Linked DNA regions of Homo sapiens. The protein of the gene in region 3 interacts with the protein of the main gene of each other region in a pairwise test. Each region holds a gene or a part of one and is shown on either strand. Other genes may lie near its edges.

Region 1 (7,779 bases), on a different chromosome or scaffold from region 3:
TCTTTTTTTAATGTTATTATTATTATACTTTAAGTTTTAGGGTACATGTGCACAATGTGCAGGTTTGCTACATATGTATACATGTGCCATGTTGGTGTCCTGCACCCATTAACTCGTCATTTAGCATTAGGTATATCTCTATAATCTTTTACAAACTTGTCCATTACATAAACTGAGGGGAGAATGTAATGATTTCCACTATCTGAAGACAGTGTCAGTACCCCCATCAAAACTATTCTCCCTTTACCTTTTCCACTTTTTTTTTTGCAAAGAGTTTCAATTTTTATGTATTTTTTTGCCTTCTAAAACTCAGTACACACATGACATCACTTTAGATCAATAGCATTAACAGAATTGGGACGTAGCTGTAAGAAAATTCAGAATCAAAATAAGTGAAGCACATGGGTGTGGTATCTCTCAAACTGTCCTTACCCAGACTATCTATAACAAGCAAATAAAGCGGAGTGTAAGAGACAGCCTTGCAAAAAAGTGAAAAAAATAAGGACTGTAGAAAATATGCTAAGCCACTAAAAAGGGAGAAATGATGGGGCGGAAAAGCCACAAACCTTCTTGAGGAAGGATCCCTGTGAGAGAAGCAGTAATAAAACAAGGAGACCATTCATGAGGATAATAAAGCCAGAGTATTGGGAGATGAAAGTTTTAGGTTGTAGAGAATGGAGGTTCACAAACGCCTCCAAACATGCCATGTACATTGTGTTTTTTTCTAACCCTTTTGCTTTAATGTTAGCTCTTACCAGAGTGAATAAGCTAAAATATAAGGAAGCTATTTACAAAAAGCAGAATTCCTGAATCAAATTAATTCAACTCAACTTATATACACTGAGTATCTAACTTTCAATTTCATTAAAGACTCTATATTGGAGACATGGAAACGCAAATCCAAATATATCATTACATAATAACAACAACAAAAAAATCCCAGCAACCCACCCCTAGTAAACAGAACTAAATGACTCAGATTAAAATCGATTCTCTGGTTTTCTTTTTTTTTTAATTATAAATTTTAAAATATGGCCAGGGCGCAGTGGCTCACACTTGTAATCCCAGCACTTTGGGAGGCCGAGGTGGGCAGATCATGAGGTCAAGAGATTGAGACCATCCTGGATAACACGGTGAAACCCTGTCTCTACTAAAAATACAAAAAATTAGCTGGGCATGGTGGCATGCACCTGTAGTCCCTGCTACTCAGGAGGCTAAGGGAGGAGAATTGCTTGAACCTGGGAGGCAGACGTTGCAGTGAGCCAAGATTGCACCACTGCACTCTAGCCTGGGCGACAGAGCGAGACTCCGTCTCAAAAAAAAAAAAAAAAAAAAAAATCTTAAATATAAATAAAAAGCATGTGTGTTTTTTTGTTTTTGTTTTTTGAGACAGGGTCTCACTCTGTTGCCCAGGCTGGAGTGCAGTGGCATGATCTCAGCTCACTGCAGCCTCAACCTCCCAGACTTAAGCAATCCTCCAGCCTAAGCCTCCTGAGTAGCCGGCACTAACAGGCATGTGCCACCACGCCCAGCTAATTTTTGTATTTTTAGTAGAGATGAGGTTTCGCCATGTTGGCCAGGCTGGTCTTGAACTCCTGGACTCAAGGATCCGCCCGTCTCAGCCTCCCAGAGTACTGGGATTACAAGCATGAGCCACCACGTGCAGCCTCTGGTTTATTTTCAAGTTAAATCAGGTCTCTAGATTATTCACCCTCTTCTGCTATATGTCAGGCAGTTTGGGTACAGTGGTGAAAAAAAGATTTTTAAACTATCTACACATCAAATGAAATAACTTTTTTAAATGTCACAAATATTGTTACAATATTATTTTAATGTTCTGTATAGACATCTTTAATGATACCCACTTTTCCACAGTTTAAACAAATGAATTTTACTCTGTTGAGTATAACTCCTATCAAAATCCTTCTATTTCCCCATAGGAGAAAGATAATAAATGATATGCATCGGTATTTTAAAAATTAAAATATTTCAGTATTCATGCTGTACATCCACACATTTAAATAATTTTTCATGACTTCAGTAATACTACTGTTGGTTAGCAACTAGTGTGCAGGCATAGCTAAGAGGGCTACTTACTGGCTATCTTTTCATTTGCCTCAAACATTCGCAAGGCTGGTTCTATTTGTGACTATTTCTGCCTGAAAAGCAGATTGATGGATTTCCTCACACTTTCTGCCTCACAAGTGCCCTGTGTTTTGCTCACAATGTATCAGCTCTTCTTAGTTTTTCAGTGTATTTTCAGACCTGTGGAACTGTACTGCAGGAAGGAAGGCCTTGCAGCTGGTAGGTTTTTCATTGCGGGTCCTGCTCAAGAGCCAGATGTGACATTGTAGCAGGTTCTAGCCTATGGCCACAGAGGTGGGAGGTTATTGAACCACCACTATGCTGTACACTTGATTTTTTATTTTATTTTTTGAGACAGAGTCTCACTCTGTCACCCAGGCTGAAGTGAAGTGGTGTGATCACGGCTTACTGCAACCTCGACCTCCTGGACTCAAGCAATCCTCCCACCTCATCCTCCCGAGTAGCTGGTAGCTGGGTGTACACTTTAATCAGGCATGCACAACCTACTATCTTTTAAACAAATTAGTTTTATCTGTGTCATATCTCAAAATTTGGTTTTCTCAAGTAAAAAATATCAGAATGAACTGTTATCTATTATAGGGAAGGAGCGGGGAGGGGAGTGGCCGAGATCCTAGTTTCCATCAATTCATAGGGTAATAGTATTTACAGCTAAAGAGGATGAATAAGAAATTTTGTACTTTTTGGGGCCAAGAACAGTGGGTCACGCCTGTAATCCCAGCACTTTGTGAGCCTGGGGCAGAAGGACTGCTTGAGGCCAGAAGTTTGAGACCAGCCTGGGCAACACAGCAAGACCCCATCTCCACAAAAAACATTTTTTTTTTTATTTAGCCAGGCACGGTCATGCACACCTGTAGTCCCAGCTACTCAGGGGGCTGAGGCAGGAGGACCACTTGAGCCCAGGGTATTGGGGCTGCAGTGAGGTATGATCATACTACTGCATTCCAGCCTGGGTGGAAGAGCAAGAGCCTGTCTCGAAAAAAAAAAAAAAAAACATATATTTTTCCTTACAAATCAAGATTTACTTAAGCCTGATGATCTATTTGACTAAGTAAACTGATTTCTGACCAGTTATTAGATTCTGAGAGTTAGAGGCAGGAAAGATGAATAGACAAGAATGGTCCATAGACGCAAGGGAGCAGGACGTTGCAAATGAAGGTCAACTCTGTAAAATACTAGAGAGAGAGCATTAACTCAGCCCTGAAAGGCTCCCACTGGATTTGATGACTGCTGGGGGTCAAAAGTGCAGGGCAGAAGTCGTAATTAGTGACCTCAGAGAAAGCCATTTCAGTAAAGGGATACAGGGAAAAGTCAGACTGCACTGCACTGAGGAGTAAAAATGAAGCAGGCTAAGAGAAGGAAAATGCAAACAGCTTCTAAGAAGCTGGCTGTGAGGGGAAGAAGAGAAATACGGCAGTAGCTAGACTAGGATGAAAAGCAGAGAAAGATCTGGCTTATTTGTTTTCAAGAAACCAGAAATGTAAGCAAGTATAGAAGGGACAGGGTCTCGGCCCAGAAAAAAAGCTACAGAACTGTATCTAGGACTGCCTACTCTTTATTTCTATTGAACTGTCACGAAAGAATTTCAAAGTCCAAAAGTTCAAAATTGAATTCATTGCCTTTCTTTGGAAACTTGCTATTCTTTCTGTACTCCTCATTTTTCTAACAGGATCTGGCTATGGAGGACCCATAGGAAGAACCTGAGTCTTCTTAGACTCCTCTGTTACCTGTCCCATCCTATGCTTTAGCCATAACTACTGTTTCTTTAATGTATCACTCCATTTCTCATCCACGAAGTAAACACCTATCTTCCAAGATTCTACTCAAAAAAAAAAAAGGAGGAAGGAATAAAGAAAAAAAAAGTAAGAGAGACTCAGCATATTCTTTTTTATGAAGGCTTTCCTGAATATGCCTCTTCACCTTAACAAATTTAAGCATCTCTTTCTTTACAATTCTAATGGTTCCTATATGGTCCTGCAGACAACTTATTTTTCCAAGCAAGTACAAAAGCAAACAACTGCCATCTATTACCTACCATCTACAAAAGAACATGTTATATCAAAATAATTTATACCAAAATACCATAGTTTCAGATTAAATGACAATCATTCTGGCCGCGCGCAGTGGCTCACACCTGTAATCCCAGCACTTTGGGAGGCTGAGGTGGGTGGATCATCTGAGGTCAGGAGTTTGAGACCAGCCTGGTCAACATGGTGAAACACTGTCTCTACTAAAAAAACAAAAATTAGCCAGGTGTGGTGGTGCATGCCTGTAATCTCAGTGACTTGGGAGGCTGAGGCAGGAGAATCGCTTGAACCCGGGAGGTGGAGGCTGTAGTGAGCCGAGATTGTGCCATTGCACTCCAGCCTGGATGACAGAGTAAGAATCTGTCTCAAAAAAAATAAAAAGGCAATTGTTCCTCAAAAGGTTAGCAACCTTACGTTAACTGTATTTAGACATAACACATCATTTCTCACTTTACTACAGACCAATAAAAATGGCATAGTGTCCTAAGAGACTTCACTATTAACACCTGTAATACTTCATTCTACTCCTTTGTATACACATCTACCTCTGTTTACTAGGTGATAAATTCTTCAGGAGTAAAGTTTGTAACTTCTTAATCTTTGTATCTGTCATATACAGTACAGCACCTGGAACAACATAGTTGCCCAACAAATGTTTGTTAAAAGTCTAATGAAGGGAAAGAAATAGAGAAAGAAAATAAAAGGGCTAAAAAAAGAGGGCAAACAATGAGAGAAAATCTTTGGAAAACAGCCACCAACTTGTAATTGAAGCTGAAGATGGATTAGTGATCTCTAAGCCAAAAGGATTCTTGACTTGTCTCATTTGCTTTTTGAAAACTCTTGTGCTGAACTGGGTCTCTTCTGAATTTCTCAGAATTACTGGAACATCCCAACCAAACCTAAAAAAAGGTAAAAAATAAAATATTATTTTAACAAATGTTGAAACTTTATGTTATGTGTAAAATCTGTTGTGCTTCATTAGCGATTCCTTTTAGCATTAAGTGTCAGAAAGAGGTTAAATTTCTCAATTTACGTTATTTTAGAGATCCCACAGAACTGCAAAACAGTTGGCCCTCTGTATGAACCAAGTGCACATCAAAAATATTTGGGGACGAGGGGGAAGAATAAAAAATAACAATAAAAAATACTACAAATTCAAAACCAATACAGTATAACAACTGTTTACACAGCATTTACATTAGGTGTAAGTAATCTAGAGATAATTTGAAGTGTACAGAAGGACGTGTGTAGGTTATATGCAAATACTATGTAATGTTATATAAGGGACTTAAGCATCCTAGAATATGGGGGGTGGGTATCCTAGAATCAATCCCCCTCAGATATCAAGGAAGGACTAGGTATTGTTCAGCTGGCTGAATCAACACATTCTTGAAAACAAAGAGTTCTATTGTTAATACTGTTGATAACACCAAAGGAGTATGGAGATTATAGATAAATTATACTTAATTTAACAGCAAACACATGATGAACTTATTGAATTTTTTTAAATGTGAAAAAGAAATATATATTCAAGAGGCAGACTATTGGCCGGGTGTGGTGGCTCATGCCTGTAATCCCAGCACTTTGGGAGGCCAAGGTGGGAGGATCACTTGAGGTCAGGAGTTCGAGACCAGCCTGGCCAAAACATAGTGAAACCCTGTCATTAATAAAAATACAAAAATTAGCTGGGCATGGTGGCGTGGACCTGTAGACCCAGCTACTTGGGAAGCTGAGGCAGGAGACTGGCTTGAACCCGGAAGGCAGAGGTTGCAGTGAGCCGAGATCGTGCCACTGGACTCCAGCCTGGGCAACAGAGCAAGATTTCGTCTCTCAAAAGAAAAAAGAGGCAGACTAATATGATTTATGGGACAACGGAACTTTTTTTTTTTTTGAGATGGAGTTTCATTCTTGTTGCCCAGGCTGGAGTGCAATGGCGTGATCTTGGCTCACTATAACCTCTGCCTCCCGGGTTAAAGCAATTCTCCTGCCTCAGCCTCCCAAGTAGCTGAGATTACAGGCATGTGCCACCATGCCCAGGTAATTTTTGTATTTTTAGTAGAGACGGGGTTTCACCATATTGACCAGGCTGGTCTCGAACTCCTGACCTTAGGTGATCCGCCCACCTCAGCCTCCCAAAGTGCTGGGATTACAGGCGTGAGCCACCATACCCAGCCAGGACAATGGAACTTTTAAAACACCAACTATAGCTCTTCATTTATATATCTTCTACTTTTAAATTTCATGTAAAAATGTAAACTCTGACAATGCCCATGGAACAGAATTAAAAGGAAAATGAAAGGGGCTAAATTCAATTCCCAATAAAATTAAAAAACAGCTACTTTACTCAATTTACATAAAATAATCTAAAATTAATACACACCAGTTAAACTAGGAAATTTTAGTTAAAGACGGCACAGTTAGGAGCCTATTTGATGCACTCCCTTCTCTCCAAATACATATCAGTGATAGATAAAAAAGAAAAAGAAAAATTAAAAAGACCCCACAGATACCTGAGTCCCATATGCTTTAAGAAAAAAGAAAGACTCCGCTGAAATGAGTAAACAAACTGTGGTATATTTAAAGAAAAGAATAGAAGTATTCAGCAGTGAAAAGGAACAACTTATTACTACAATCAAATGGATAAATTTCAGAAACATCGTGCTATGCAAAAGAAGCCTTACACAAAAGAATAAATGCTGTATCCTTCTCTAATATAAAATTCTAGAGCAGGCACAACAAATTTATGGTAGAAATAAAAATGAGAACAATGGTTGCTTCCGGAAGTACAGGAGTAGGACTGACTGGGAAAGAGCATAAGAAAATTGACGGTAACGTTCAGTATCTTGACAGAGGCTTAAGCTGTATAGATGATGTGTTTGATAACACTTGGTAAATGGTACACTTAAGATTTGTACATCTTGGCCGGGTGCGGTGGCTCACACCTGTAATCCCAGCACTTTGGGAGGCCGAGGCGGATGGATCATGAGGCCAGGAGATCGAGACCGTCCTGATTAACACAGTGAAATCCCGTCTCTACTAAAAATACACACACACACACATACACACACACACACAAATTAGCCAGGCGTGGTGGTGGGCGCCTGCAGTCCCAGCTACTCGGGAGGCTGAAGCAGGAGAATGGCGTGAACCTGGGAGTCTGAGCTTGCAGTGAGCCAAGATCGCGCCATTGCACTCCAGCCTGAGCGACAGAGCAAGACTCCATCTCAAAAAAAATAAATAAATAAAAAATAAGATTTGTGTATCTTATATGTAAATGTTACTTCAAAAAACTATAAACGAAAACAAACACTGAACTCTAATCAGTAATATGTAATGTTTTAGAACTTACAGGTGAAGAGTACAACTCACTTTGAAGGGCATCGTGAAATAAGATAGACCAATGTATGGATAAAAGAGTGGATTAATGTGGACAGATATGTAATAGAGAAATTACAGTAAAATGCTGATTGTAGAATCTAAGTGATGGGCAGATGTGTGTTCACTGTGTAATTCTTTCTAGTATTCTGTATGTTTGAAAATTTTTATAATAAAATGCTGGGAACAAATACCTTTATGGATCCAAAAAAAGCAAAGAAACAAAGTAATGAGTAAGGCTATGCCATGGTTTCATGGTTCTCAGTCTGGCAGC
Region 2 (7,779 bases), on a different chromosome or scaffold from region 3:
TCCTTGGAAACGGCCCGGCCACCTGGGAGGGAACAAACAGGCACTGCCCAGACCCGGAGCTGCAGGCAGGGCTCAGCAGGACCCCAGGCGGGCACACAGGGGCTCATCTGGAGGGACCTGAGGGGCACAGGCTACAGTCGGGAGAGCCCCGGGCAGGCACACAGGGGCTCATCTGGAGGGACCTGAGGGGCACAGGCTACAGTCAGGAGAGCACAGACAAGAGGCCCCCGAGGCCACCAGGGCCGACTTTTACTTTATCCTAAGGATCAGGGACGCAAAAGGATTTTAACAAAGACGGCCACACCACCTGCTGCAGAATGAGTATAAATGCCCTTCTTAGCCTTCGAGGCCGGCACTGGCCTCGCTGACCCCTCTAATCCTGCCACCTGTGCAGCAGGCGGCAACAGGGACAGGCAGACGACACAGCTGGGGCCAGAGGACGACGCAGAGAGACCCACATCAGAGACCCTCGGGGAGTGACAGAGCCCCCGCCCCAACCCCAGTGAGTGGGACAGGCTGAGTGGGGACTGAGCACGTCTAGGGCCAGAGTGGGAGGGCCAGCCGTGCCGGCTTCCAAAGAGGACCCCGGGAAACAAACACCCTCCCACTCGGCAAGGACAAATCAAGCAACTGCCGAGACAGGTGTCCGCGTCCCAACCCAAGGCTGCCCAGACAGACAAGCGCTCACCGCCGCACTGCCCTAACAGCTGCTGAGACACATTCCTGCAGCCGCCTCAGCTAGAGCCAGGGAGGCCCTGGGAGAATGGCCTTGCCTGCTCTCAGCCTCCTCTCATCTTCAGGAGCCTTTTCCCCCCTTTACCCTAACTGACATCTCCGGGCCCCTCATTTGCTCAGAGTCTGCTCAGTGGGGCACCCAACGGTGGACAGGTGAGAGAGGTGAGGGGCTGGGCTGTCACCGCGGCCAAGGGAGCCATGGCCCTCCAGCCTGAACGGCTTCTGCCCGAAATCAGGACACAAACACAGCATCATACACAGCAGAAACAGCCCAGAAAGGCCCCAGCCCAGATGGCACTGGAATAAACAGTTTTCCCCAAGTCACTTTAAAATGAAAGTTTTGGGCTACCTACTTCTAAAGAGGACTTCAGGACAGTTCCAGGAGTTCCTCCATGACACACCCCATGGAGAATGCTTGGCTGCTGCGTTTACTCAATGTAGCCATTGAACAGAAACTCAAGAGCGTTGCTCTGCCAGCCTGAAACCTTCTTCATGCTTCCAGCCATCAGGGTTTCAGCCAGGTCAGAAACAACAGAGGCAGTAGGCTCTTCCAGAACAGCAGTGTGAGGCTCTCCACAGACCCTCTCCAGCAACATCACTGCCAGTGGTGAACATTACAAACAGCACCCACTTAAAGTCCCTAACGTGTCTTAGGGACACACGGCGAATGGAGAAACGCTTATCCAAGAAAACCACCTAAGTGGCAGCAGGAACAGCAACTTCGTGACACTTGGGCCACAACCTGCTTCCCCATCCCCATGTGACAAAAGCTCTACTCCCAGCAGGCAACCGAGAAGACAGGCTCCCTCTCCCCCAGTGCCACTGCAGCAGTGGCGGGCACCCGAGCTCTTCATCGCCTGCTCAGCTCCTGTCTGCCCAGGCTCCCTTCCTCCACTCAGCCCCCACCCATGGCGCAGGGGCAGAGGACACTGAGCATCCCTTGTCCCTGCCTCAGCTTGCTCACTGGGAGAGGTTCCACACAAGCAGGGGCAAACTAAGAAGACCAGAGGCAACAACTCACTTCCCATGCAGCACTCAGAGCAGAGCTGTCACCCTCAGAGGACCAGAGGTTCTGTCCTGGGGATGGCGGTATCAGGATAGAGAGCTCCGTAGCTCTCCCTAGAGGGACTCCCTGCTTAGAGCAGGTACAAGTTCAAGTGTAAGGATGCTAACAAAAACAACAGAGACCTCGGCAGCCAGCAACTAAGAGGAGCTAGAAGCTCCATGATGAGCTCAAAGTTTATCAAACAGAACCAGAAAGGACAACCAAGAGGAGCACTCCTGGGAACAGAACCACCACCAAACACTGGCCCCAATGGCCACCCTGCCCAGCTGTGGGGAATACATCCCCCAGGGCATCATCAAATCAGCCAGCAGCCATCAATGAGTGGAGGCCAACAGCTGGTTTGACCACCAGAAGCTTAACGGGAAGATCAGGGAGGGTCACAGCCAGCCAGAACCACCACATCTGAGGGAGAAGAGGCCCAGAGACTGCACTAGTCCAGCCAAATCACAAAACAAACAAGCAAACAGTAAGTCATCCTTCCCCCAAGTGGGGGAATCTGTATCCACAGCTGCTACTATAGTTTACCTAAAATGTCCAGCTTGCAACAAGAAAACAAAATGAGTTATACAAAGAAACAGAAAAGTGTGGTTCACACAGGAAAAAAATAATAAGCAGGACACAAACTGCTTTTGAAGAGGCACAGGTGTTGGACTCAGTAGAAGAAGACTTTAAAATAGCTATTATAAATATGTTCAAATAACTAAAGGGATCCATGCATAAAGAATTAAAAGAAAATATGATGACAACAACTGATCACATAGAGGTTATCAATAAAGAGACAGAAATTCTAAAAAAAAAGAACCAAGTGGAAATTCTGGCATTGCAAAGCACAACTAAAATTTTAAAACTCACTATAAGGGCTCAACAACAGACTGAGCTGGCAGAAGAATCAGTGAATTCAAAGAAATATCAATAAAGACTATGCAACCTAAAGAACAAACAGAAAACAGAATTAAGAAAAAAGAACACAGTCTCAGAGAAAGGTGGGATGACAGGAAAGGGCACCGGCACATGCAGAATGGGTGAGATTGTGGAGAGGAGAGAGGGGAGCAGAAAAAAAAATTCAAGGAGATAATGACTTTTGAAAACTTCCCAAATATGATGAAAATATTAATCCACATACCCAAGAAGCTCAACAAATTGCAAACCTGATAAAGAGATCCACACCCTGACACATCACAGTCTAAATGATGAATGTCAAAAAACAAAGACAAAATCTTGAAAGTAGCAAGAGAAAAATAATTTATCACTTACAAGGAAACCCCAATAAGATTAACAGCTGACTTCTCATCAGAAACAATGGAGTCCAGAGGGCAGTGGAATAACATATTCAAAGCACTGAAAAGAAAAAAAAATCATCAACCAAGATTCTTACATCTAGTAAAACTTTTTTTAAAAAATAAGGGGAAAACAAAGATTCCCAGATAAACAAGAACTGAGAAAATCTGTTGCTAGTAGGCAGACCTTACAGAAAACAAATTTTTCATGCTGAAAACAAGAAACATCAGACGCAATTCAAATCCACATAAAAAAAGAGTACAGGTAAAGACAATGATGTAAGTTATTATAAAAGATGATATCGGTCACATGTCTTCTCCTTTCCTCTCTTAGTTGACTTAAAAAGTAACTGCATGAAACAATATGCATTGTATTGTTTGGGGGCCTTTAACATAAAGAAATGTAATATATTTGACAATAATATTAATAGCACAAATGAGATGGGATCAAAACTGTATTAGAGAAAGAAAATGACTGTAGATGGTAACTCAGTCTCAGAAAGAAATGAAAGGAACCACAAATGGTAAATAAGGTTAATATAATAACTCCATAATATATGTTTGTTCTCCTTTCTTTTCTCAAGTTCTTGAATGACATAAAATGTATATAAAGGAACAATCAGAAAAATATATTGTTAGGTTGTAATATATGTAGACAAAATATGTATAATAATCATACCATTTAAAAAGGGAGGAGGAAATCGAACCATGTAGGAGTAAGGTTCCTGTCACTGGAATTAAGTTAGTATAAATTTGAAGTAGATTCTGATAAGTTAAGATGAATATTGTAAGCCTTCAAGTAACTACTAAGAAAATAATTCAGAAAACATTATTTAAAGAAATTAAAATGTTACATTAGAAAATATTTACTTAATACAAAAGAAAGCTGTAAAGGAGCAACAGCTAAGGGGAAAAGGCATAGGATATACAGAAACCAGAAAGTAAAGTAGCAGATGTAAATCTGAACATATTATAACATTAAGTGTGAATGAAATAAACAATCAAATCAAAGGGCAGAATTGCCAGAATGGATTTTTTTTAAAGATCCATCGTATGTATACAGAAGACTCATTTTAAATTCAAAGACATAAAAAAGTTAAAAGTAAAACAATGGAAAGAATATATCAAATGGCAACCACAGGAGACATGCATGTGATGACACTAACGTCAGAAGACACAGATGTCAAAAGAGAAAATATGCATATACGTCCCTAACAAACAACAGTGCCCCAAAATACATCAAACAAAAACTGACAGAAGTGAAAAGAGAAAAAGATAATTCAAAAATAGTTACAGACTTCCACACCCACATTTAGTAATGGACGTAACAACTACACAGAAGAACAATAAATCATAGACTTGACCTAACAGACAACCCTCCACCTTCACCCAACCACAGCAAAATGCACATTGAATATTCTCCAGGACAGATCATATGCTAGGCCATAAGATGTGCCTCTATTTAAAAGTACTGGAATCTGGCTGGGCGTGGTTGCTCATGCCTATAATCCTAGCTCTTTGGGAGGCTGTGGTGGGTGGGTGCCCTGAGCTCTGGAGTTTGAGACCAGCCTGGTAAACATGGTGAAAACCCTGTCTCTACAAAAAATACAAAAAAAATTGGCCAGGGACGGTGGCACACACCTATAGTCCCAGCTACTTGGGAGGCTGAGGCACAGGAATTGCTTGAACTCAGGAGGCAGAGGTTGCAGTGAGCCAAGATCACACCACAGCCAACAGAGCAAGATTCTGTCTCCAAATATTAAAAATAAATAAATAAAAGTACTGGAATAATACAGAGTATATTCTACAATTATAATGGAAATAAATTTGAAATCGATAACAGAAGACATTTTGGGATATTCACAAATATGTGGAAGTTAACACATTCCTAATAAGTGGGTCAAAGAAGAAATCTTGGAGTAAATTTTAAAATACTTTTAGGTGCATGAAAACAAAAACACAACACACCAAAGTATAGGATGCAGGTAAAGCACCTGCTTAGAGAGAAATTATGGCTGTCAATAACTACATTAAAAAGGAAGAAAGAAAAAAAATCAATGTTCTAACCTCCACCTTAAGAAAAAGAGTAAATTAAAACCAAAGCAAGCATAAGGAATGAAAGAATATTGGAGTGAAATAAAACACAGAATAGAAAAACAATAAAGAAAATGAACAAAACCAAAAATTGGTTCTCTGATAGGCAATGTGGATGTGTTGTGTTAAAAAAAGAAAGAAAGAAAGAAAGAAAAGAAAAAGAAACACCTTTTAAAAAGTTGGTTATTTGACCAGAACAAAAAATTGACAAATTTTTAGCTAGACTGACCAAAAAAAGAAAGGAAAGGAGGGGATCAAATTACTAAAGTCAGGAATAAAAGAGGAACCATTACTAATGACTTTCCAGAAATACAAAGGATTATAAGGGAATACTAAGAAAAATTATATGTCAACAAATTAGATAACTTGGGTGAAATGGAAAAATTCCAATACAAACTACCAAAACTGACTTACAAAGAAACAAAAAATCTGAATAGACTTATAACAAGAGATTGAATTCGTAATTTTAAAACTTCCCACAAAGAAAAGCCCAAGCCCAGATGGCTTCACTGGATAACTCTAAAAATATTTAAAGAGAAATTAGTGTCAACCCTTTGCAAACTCTAAAAAGATAGAAAAGGAGGGGAACATTTCCCAACTTATTCTATAAGGCCAGTATTATCCTAATACTAAATCTAGACAAAGTCATCACAAGAAAACTACAGACCATCATGTCTTACGAATACAGATACAAAAAATCCCCAATACAATACTAGCAAATAAAATCCAGCAACAGATAAAAAGTGTTAGACACCATGACCACATGGATTTATCCCAAGAATGCAAGGTTGGTTCAACACACAAAAATCAATCAATGTAGTACATCATCATAGTAGAATAAAAAATAAAACCCACATGATCATCTCAACAGACACGAAAAGCATTTGGCAAACTCTTTTATTATAAAAACACCCAACAAACTCGAATAAAAGGGAACTGCCTTAACCTAATGAAGGGCAACTATGGAAAATCCATTAACTAACATCTACTTAGTGATGAAAGATGGAATGCTTTCTCACTAAAATGAAGAATAAGATAGGTGCATCCACTCTCACCGCCTATAACCAGGATAAGCAATAAAAAGAAATAAAAGCAACTACATTGGTAAGGAAGAATTAAAACTATATTTGCAAATGACAGAATCATATATAGAGAATCTACTAAACAACTCTTAGAACAAACCAGTTCAGCAGAATTGCATGATACAAGATCAACATGCAATGATCAATTACATTTCTATAAAGTAGCAATGAAGCAGCAGAACTGAAATTAAGAAAACAATTCCATTTACAATAGCATCAAAAAGGATAAAATACTTTGGAATAAATTTAACAAAGTCCAAAATTTGTCATCTAAATTTTTCTCCTCCCTTCCTGTCTCCCTCCTGCTTCCCCTTCCCGCCCCCATCTCCCCACACACAGAAGAGCATGGACAGGCTTCTAGTAACTACTTCATGCTTGAAAACAGCAGAGCTAGGAGTTGATTAGTTTGCTGTAGACTCGGCCACGCTTGGTAAAGATGACGCACGCACATGCACAGATGGAAGCAACAACAGGAGGAAGTACAGCTGCAGGAATGAAGCAAAAGGAACGTGCTGCGGACAGTGCACGCGCAGGGTACATACCCAGGAAGGACCGCCTGGGGGCAACCTTGACTTCTTCATCCTTGCTATCTGCAGCTACACGTTAAAAAGGGAGACAGAAACAGAAAGGGGAAAAAGACAGAAACATACTGGTTTTAACATGGGTAAACAGCTGTGTTCCCAGAACTTTTTGCATTTCTTTAAAAAAAAAAAAACAAACCAGAATAGAAAGATCACAAGATTTTGGTTTTTGTGCATTAGAAAACCCACTTTCTGAACTATTTTTCTGCAAACCTAACCTCTTCCAATATCATAAAAAAGTGAATGGGGAGAATGGGAGAAAAATTGAGCCAAAAATTGAAAGTTACCACATTTCCATTTAATCTCTCGGGAGAAAGGCAGCATGGGAGCCCGTCACAAGCGTGCTGTGCTGATGGAAAGCAGCCAGGCAGATCCTGCTTCCCTTTTCCTAGAAACTCATCTGTATGCAAGCTGCGGCTGCAATATAGCTGCCCCAGGTCAAAACTCTTCAGAAGGCTGCCTGATAAAGCTGTTTTCAGAGTACACTCTGCTGTAAAAGGACAGCTGGTTCCGCACATGCACTTGACAAGCACCTCTGCACAGACACAGACACAGGGACAATGTGACAGGGACCCAGCACCCTCCAGGGCCCAGCACTGGCAATGACAGGTTATAAGTCAACCTTCCTATCTGCGCAGCCCCAGGACAAGACAGCAGCCAAGGTCCTGGAAAACAGTGTGGCCTCTAGGTGGCTCCTGGGAAGCCCCATGGGGTTTGGGATTGAAGACAGTTGATAAACAAGAGACTCAAATAAGTCCTGGGATCAGAAAGCAGAAGTAGGATCAAAGGTTGTGTTTGCCTGCCCCAGGCAATGTAGACTTAAAATGGAAATTTTGCAAGTGAACAGCTAAAAGCAAATACGAGGTGACCTCTGACCTCTGCCCTCTGCTACTTGGACTTAGGGTGTTGTTCCACTCACAAGGCAGGAACTGCAATATCTCTAC
Region 3 (7,779 bases):
TTCCCCAAACTCCTACCCTACTAAAATCATCACATTAGGGGTTAGGGTTTCAACGTATGAATTTGGGGACGGGCACATTCAGTTCACTGCATTAAGACATGAGTGTTCCAATGGCCATGGCTAACACCTGGCTGCTGGGCCTGATCTAAAATACTACCGTGTAGCCACCCCAGACTGGAATGCAAAGGCTTTAGCCTAAAATAGGTCTTACGCTTTTAACAGGAAGTCTTTTCTATCTATTTACACAGATACTTAGAAAAATACATTCTTCCTCATTAAGTCACATGGCATTTGTTAGAGGCATGCCTATTTTAGCATCTGACGGTATGCAAGGGTTCCTGAATATACACAGGATGGGCCATGGAGAACTATACACCTAAAACCAACTTTTAACACTTTCCCAGCAGTAGAGTCTCAGACTGAGACTTAAAGAACCAAGGTCTAATATGAATCTTATCACACATGAGAGACCTCATACCAATCATACCATGTTTTCATGCCTGAGTTACCTCCTTCCCTGGCCTTCCCTACCAACCCCCACAAATATGCTCCCTAGGCTACCCTCCATCTAGCTTCCAGGTGTGTTAGAGGCACAGTTACACAACATGTGAATGACCCTACCACAGCAGAAACTAGTAGTATCCTAAAGTACTCTGTAGAGCTGAACACTATAATTTTAAAAATAAGTTAAAATTTATTAAATGAAATACAGTGCCTACCTGAACTATTAAAGTAGTATTGCCGTCCTGGGTAACCAACACTGGAGGAAAAACCGCCTAAACGTAAAAGAAATAAACATTTTAATGGCAGCCATAAAGCTTTAAATGCTAATTGTTCCAGTAATTAGAAAGTTCTCTGGACAAAGCCCAAGGTCATTTCAAATGATTTCTAAACACTTATTAAAATAAACTCCCTTTTGTTTGGGGGCCAGCCCTAACTGGAAAAGAGTGTGTGTGTGTCCCTACAGGGAAAAGAATGTGTGTGTGTGTGTGTGTGTGTGTGTGTGTGTGTGTGTAGTGGAAAATGAAACCCTAATTTACACTCACTGAAGTTCCTTAGTCTTTGCCTGCCAAAGTACCAAGCCTCGGCTTTGATGTCTCTGTACAAGCAGAGACACTCTGGCTAAATGGAGAACCTTCCTCAAAGAAGGTGTTAGGAGAGCCATCCTCCCTACCCTTCCTAGGGGACTTCACTCTTTCTTGTCCCTACAGAAGGCAGTAGGACTGTCTACTCAGTCAATTTGGCACGGCTGAATGAAATGAGAGAGGGAGGGCCAAGGGCCACACCCTCAGGGTGACCCTCCTCTTCCAGGAGGCATCAGACAGCAGCTTCCACATGCTGGGTCGTTTTCCATGGGGTTCCTGTGTCCTTCAATTCTCAGCTCACAGAAAAAAGGCCGAGTTCGCAGGCTATTTGCAAATTGCACTGAGTGTTCTAATTTTCCTATTTAATTTGCTATTGTATTTATTACTTTGAAAATGGAGTGGTGTAGAAATAAGTCACCACTTATTTTTTAAGGCTTTTAAAACTAAGAGTTTAAATATTATAATTAGGGGAAAATCCTCTTTAAAAATTAAACAAAGCACTTGCTTAAATTTCATAACATGTCTGCAAAAAGCTTTACTAACCGCTTCATCATGAGACACAGAAAAAAGAAACAAGACATTAAACTCCCGAGAATCATCTCTTTTATCAGTACTAATGAGTATTAAATTGTATTGAAAATACAATAAAACTGGACATTTTCAATAAATGAAGCTCCCACTGCCTCCTCTAAGTACGTACAGTGGAAACACATTAATAAGCAAACGTGGGAAAATGAGGATCTGCTTAAATGCAACACAGCCTGTAAAAATCAACCAAAAGTGAACACGACCTGCTAATAAAGGTGCCAGTGCAGTGCCTGGAAAGCTTTCTACTATCATGAATATTATATGGTTCTCAAGAATACCAGTCATCAGCACAAACTGTGAAACAAATTATTTATGGTTCAAGAAAAGGTAAAATAGTCTCAGAAGACTTCCCATGAATAAAAGATGAAATAGTGGAACTCAGTCTATAAAACAAGTGTTTGCAAACCAGTTTTCTTACAAGTCAAAATGAGAATCGCATTGAAAATTAAGAGGTCTAAAAAATACAAGTATTTCTAAATGAAATATTTTCATTGAGTATCAATTTGAAGGGAAAAACAAAATTAAAAAAAGCAGGAGCTAAGCTTCAAGCAATAACAGACTTGGTTTCGCCATGCATGAATATATGGCTCATCCACCAAGGACCCGGTCATCAGTCTGAATTCTTTAAAATACTGGCCATGCACTTCAGTCCAGGCTTTGTTTTCTTTTTCACCTTTGCCTTGCACGTATATTAATTCATGGACTATTATAGAAGAATGCATTATTTTAAAGGCACTTTAGTTCTCTGCATTCTTTAGGAAATCGTGGTTTTCTGCGGGTAGCATTAAGGTTGAGGGTATAAATATATACTGATATTTGTCCCCTAAGAAAGTATCAGATTCGAAATTTAAGTTTGCAGCCTCTTTTGTGGAGCAATGTAAGGAACTGCACTGGTTGTTTTACCTTTCGGTTTAAAAAGAAAAACAGGCATATTAGGGAATTCTTGAGCTGAACCACAGGGAAACTTGGGGTTGCTTCTGTTCACATTAAAATTAACATGAACTTCCAAGCTGTTGTCATGCCAAAGGTGTTTTATTCTGTACCTGCACATGCTTCCATGATTTTCTTCAGAGGCCCTTGAGTGTACATTAGTCCAACAAGAATCCCAGCCAGATGCCCAGCGAAGGAAGTCCTAGGAGGGAAGGAGACCCTTTGTGAGTGTTTGTTCTGCTGCTGATTAGAGACATTCTGTCTTCTCATTAGCCCAGTGCATGTCAAATAGTCACAGTCTGCAGGCTTTGTTCCACATCAAGTCTTTTATGCTAAGCAGCATTTAACTCAGTCCAAAGAACAACATCTCCTACCTTAAAAAAAAGTACAATGAATAACAACCACCACATGTTTAAAACGCAACACCCCTCCTTAACCAGGGGAAGTGGGTTGTCTCCTCCAGAGCAGTGGAAGCATTTGGTCAAGACAAGTCATTACATCGCTTTCCGTTTTTTTTCTGTACCTCTTATCACAAAACATAAATAAAATCAGTTTTCTCTGTTTGGCATTAAATCTGGAATTATCCAGCCATTGTGAGGGATGATGTCTATCTGTGTTATGGCAGGGCAGACTGCTGCAGTTTTCTACACCATGGATGAGTGAAGCAGAGAGCAAGTGAAACTCAGCAAAAGGAACTGAGATGCCCACCTGCATCCACCAAAGTTGTCTTCATGTGTATGTTTCAGTCACTCAGAACAAAGAAACATACATTTAAATTTCAAACTTGAAAGATGAGTTAGGGCATGAAAGTGTTTGCGTTAGGGCATGACAGTGGTTTAACTCTTCTTAAACTGGCATCTAAAACCAGCAATTACTTGTAAGATTTATTTTCAGAGGTCTACTTTGACCCAAGTGGCAACACTCTTTGTGGAGTTCCCTGGCTGAATGACCTCCCAACCAGCCTGAGTTTAAGAAATTACTGGCGATTCTCAAAAACCTCTGCTGTTACCACAAAGGGGGGGGTCCTACACAACGAGTTGTTCTTTAAGCACTTGACCTCAATTTCCAGCTGCCCGCCACCCTCTAGACACCCCCGCGCACACATGCACACATCCACTAGCACCTTAAACTAGACTTTTCTGGGGTGCCACTCCCACTTCCCGTTTGTAATGCCTCTCATACCCCTCCCAGCCTTCCCATTCCTACTGCCACAACCATGCTTACTGCCATCTGGACTATTTGGAAATGCCCAGTGTTGGGCACAGAGTGAACCCCAGATGAATGTGTGTTGAATGAATAAAATAAATGAAAGAAAATCATCCAGCTGGTCTCCCTGCAAGCCAGCTCTTGCTCTCCAGTGCATCCCACACACGGCCATCAGTTATCCTCCTGAGGCAGAAGGCAAGTGGTGTCATTGCCATCCTCTGAAATCCACTGGTTCTCACAGAATACTCCGGTGTGTGTTTAAGCCCTTCCAACACTTGGCCTTGCCCATCTCTGCAAAGTCAGAGGGTGGAGACCTCATCGTCTACTACCTCCATTCCCACATGCCCCACTGTCACATCCCCCAAGCACTCTCTGACCATAGGCTAAGCCAAACAGCACCTCTGTCAAAAAATGCCACCCCAGTTGAAGAGCCGTTCTTTCCTTCTCCTGCCTCCCCTCAGAGCTGAGGCTCCTACCTTATTCTGGCACGAAGCCAGTCTGCTGGTGGCACAGTACTTACACGTCTGCCTGCCTGTCCGTCTCTCTCTGTCACACACAAACTCCCTGAGGGCAGCAATGGTGTCTCATTCATACATTATACAAAATTAGAAGCTTAAAAAAAAAAAAAAGCCAAGCAAATGAACGCATTCCCACAGCCTGGAATAGTGACCTCTCATTCCAGAAGGTGGGAAACTGAAAGTTATGAAAGAGCCTGATGGAGACTCCAAGAACATAGCCTTTATGTGGCTTTTACATATGTATTCCAAACACCCAGGACAGGGCCAGGCACATGAGAGGCACTCAAGGATATGTTGAGTAAATGGCTCAAGTGTGCCAGGACCGTTTCACCAAGACCAACAGGAGGTAAGTTAAAACCACTAGATGTTCAGCTCAGGGTGCTTGCTGAGCCACGGCAATCACAGAGCTAAGAATCCGCCATTTGGTAACCTACACGAGACTCAGAGTCAAAACCAATACATTTCGCCTACTATGGCAGCAGCCTAGGGGAGATTCCCTGAAACACCACAAGCAAGATGGTTCTGAGTAATTTTCTTTGTCTCCAAGCTATGAAAAGACTCGCTGGCTCTCAGGAAAAGAACATGCAATGAGGAACACTTGAAAGAAAGAGACAAACAGGAGCCTTGTAAAGAGAACAGCATTGATGCTTGTTCCCATTAGCTGACTAAATGACACTATTGCCCAGACAAGCCCTCACATACATGCACACGTGCTAAAAGTCATGGCACATGCATGCGCGTGCACACACACACAGACACGCACACACACCACATACACGATCATCCCCTCAGGAGAGCATTATTTTCATCAGATATATCTACTGAAACAGGAGTTCCCTGACCCCCCTCCCCCCCCGCTTGCAGGATGTGCCACAGTGGTGTAACTTGTCTGTTTGGTGACCGTGCATGCTTAAACCCCTTACGGGAAGGGGAGCACACAGATGGGCAGGTGCAGGAGCTGGGATGAGTGCCCCTAGGCTTCAGCCTCACGGCAACGTCCAGGGGTGTGTATCTGCGACTCCTGAAACCCAAGTGGGTGTGTGTTACAGTGCGCTCTTTTAACCTTGCGGTCCACAGGCAGCTTAAGGGTTAGACAGCTCAGTGAACCCTCTGCCTTTCCACAAAGGCAGAGGGCCAGTGTGAAAGTTTTCTGTTTCCCTGTTTCTTCTCTGGCATCCAGGAAAAATCAGATCACACGTGGACTTGAAGGATGAATGTGGGGCTTTTATTGGGTGATGGAGGTGGCTCCCAGTGGGATGGATGGGGAGGTGGAAGAAGGATGGAGTGGGAAGATGGTCTTCCCCTGGAGTTTGGCTGTCCAGTGACATATCTCCTCTCCGATCATGTCCAGGTAAACTCCCTCTTAGCATTCAGATGCTCCTTCTCTCTGTTGCGCCGTTCTGCTATTCTTCTGCTCTTCTGTTCATCTCCTTGTCTCCTTCTGGAGCCTGGGGTCTCAGGTTTATATGGATACAGGAGAGGGGGGTGTGGTGGGCCAATAGGCAGCTTTTGGATGCAAAAACAGGAATGCCTGTTCCCATTTAGGGCTGTGGGTTTCCAGGCTTGAGGGTGGGGCCTTTGCTGGGAACCGCCCTCTTCTACCCACTGTTTCTGCCTCCTGTCCGTGTCACTACTTCATATAATAAAATTATGGGATTGAACATTTTTTCCCATTTTCTGGCAAGAATAGTAGGAACTATGCTTTTAGCTCCCCAGCCAAGCTAAGAAATTCTATAGTCACCCCCCATTATCTGCAGACCCCCAACTGGATGGCTGAAACCACAGATAGTACTGAACCTTATATATACTATGCTTTTCTCATCTCATAATCATAACAGCTACTAAGTGACTCACGGGTGGGTAGCAGAGACAGCATGGACACACGGGGCAAAGAGATGATTCACGTCCTGGGTGAGACGGGGTGAGATTTCACCATGCTATGCAGAGCAGTGTGAAATTTAAAACTTATAAATGGCTTATTTCTGGAATTTTCCATTTAATGTTTTTGGATCAAGGTTGACTGGGGCTAACTAAAAATGCAGAAGGCAAAATCACAGATAAGGGGGACCACTGTACTTATTTTATTCTATGCTCAGGCTCAGTACAATCGGCCACCTATTAATAGTTGTAAAAATGACAAAGAAAGTGGCAGTTTGAGAGATACAAAGAAGTGGCCAGGACCAGTTAAAAAAATAATAATAACTTCAATTTAGATGAAAAGAATATAATAATATTGGTATTTCTGAAACTCTGGTTTCAAATCAACCTTCATGGTGAAGCATATATGATATAAAATAACATAGAAGGAAGTTTCAATTTAAAACTTCAACCTATTAAACAATTAATCTTGAATCTCATTTACAATTTAGAGTACAATACAGTGAAATGAATTTCTTATCTATCTCTAAATGGTTTTCAGAAGTTTGAGTTATAATCTAATTGCCCTAATATAATTTCAAATATCTAGGGAAGGGAGGCTGGCAGTCCGGAGAACTCATTGCGTCATCCTCCAACATTCAGCATTTTCCACAAAAGTTCCATCTCAAAAATTTAACTGGTCTTGTTTCATTTAAGCTTTATAAAAGTGTTCAATTTTAAAATAAAAATGAGATTATGATCTTATTCAATCAAAACTGAGAATCTCTCAACATCACACACATAAAAAAACAGGAGAATGAATTTCACCAATGTAAAAGGAATATAAAAGTCATTTTAAGAGGTAAATTAACTTTCTCCATGCCCTTGGTAACCATTTGACAAATCACTTCCCTTCACCCTCTAAGAGATACCCACATCCTGAGCGAGAAGATAGATGGACCTGCAGACAGGGAGAAAACTGAACTGGGAAGGTGGTTCTCACCAGTCCTAGGGTTAGGGCACTTTACCCCTGAGCTGGGGGTGCTGTGGAGACAGAAAGAAGCCCTGGGCTTTGGGGGAAGATGATCCATCTGAATGCTCTGATCAGTGGCTGGGATCTACCTTCAAACGTAACAGCATCAAAACCAGACAGTATTGTTACAATCATAATTAGATGTGTTAAACAGAAGTTGTGAAGCTTGTGGTCTCTGAATAAGCCTGTGGCTTCATTCTGTTCTTAGCTCCACGTGGAAGATGCCATCCGAAGCAGCATTCAGGGACAATCCTGCAACTAGGAACAACTTCCTGTTGACCTTACTAGGTCTTAGGCTAGGACTGGGGATTTGGTTATGACCTACCACCCTCTATCCTATTCAGAGTAATTCCTTCTGGGACAGGACCACCACCAACTCTACATCCATGACCACAGCAACTACAGTAAACGGCCTGACACTAGCACTCAGTACGTAACTATCAGATGAGAGGAAGAGTGGAATTTCAATTACACATAAAATACATGTATCTAAAATACACTGTATTAAAAAAATCACAAGTTACATTTGTATGTCTCTTTTAGAAAAATGTCTAGTCAAGTG

The links.
Region 1: the proteins of RHBDD1 (region 3) and CGRRF1 interact in binary tests that used the Homo sapiens proteins (3 or more experiments, as listed by UniProt).
Region 2: the proteins of RHBDD1 (region 3) and SLC66A2 interact in binary tests that used the Homo sapiens proteins (3 or more experiments, as listed by UniProt).

The regions. Positions count from the first base shown.
Region 1 is NC_000014.9:54,519,704-54,527,482, reverse strand, and holds part of CGRRF1 (cell growth regulator with RING finger domain protein 1), read right to left. Parts: intron 5,030-7,779; coding exon 4,890-5,029; intron 1-4,889. UniProt on the Homo sapiens protein: Able to inhibit growth in several cell lines.
Region 2 is NC_000018.10:79,927,173-79,934,951, forward strand, and holds part of SLC66A2 (solute carrier family 66 member 2), read right to left. Parts: intron 6,851-7,779; coding exon 6,797-6,850; intron 3,140-6,796; coding exon of another isoform or gene 3,132-3,139; exon of another isoform or gene 3,093-3,131; coding exon of another isoform or gene 3,056-3,092; intron 1-3,055.
Region 3 is NC_000002.12:226,901,819-226,909,597, reverse strand, and holds part of RHBDD1 (rhomboid-related protein 4), read right to left. Parts: intron 2,806-7,779; coding exon 2,717-2,805; intron 777-2,716; coding exon 720-776; intron 1-719. UniProt on the Homo sapiens protein: Intramembrane-cleaving serine protease that cleaves single transmembrane or multi-pass membrane proteins in the hydrophobic plane of the membrane, luminal loops and juxtamembrane regions.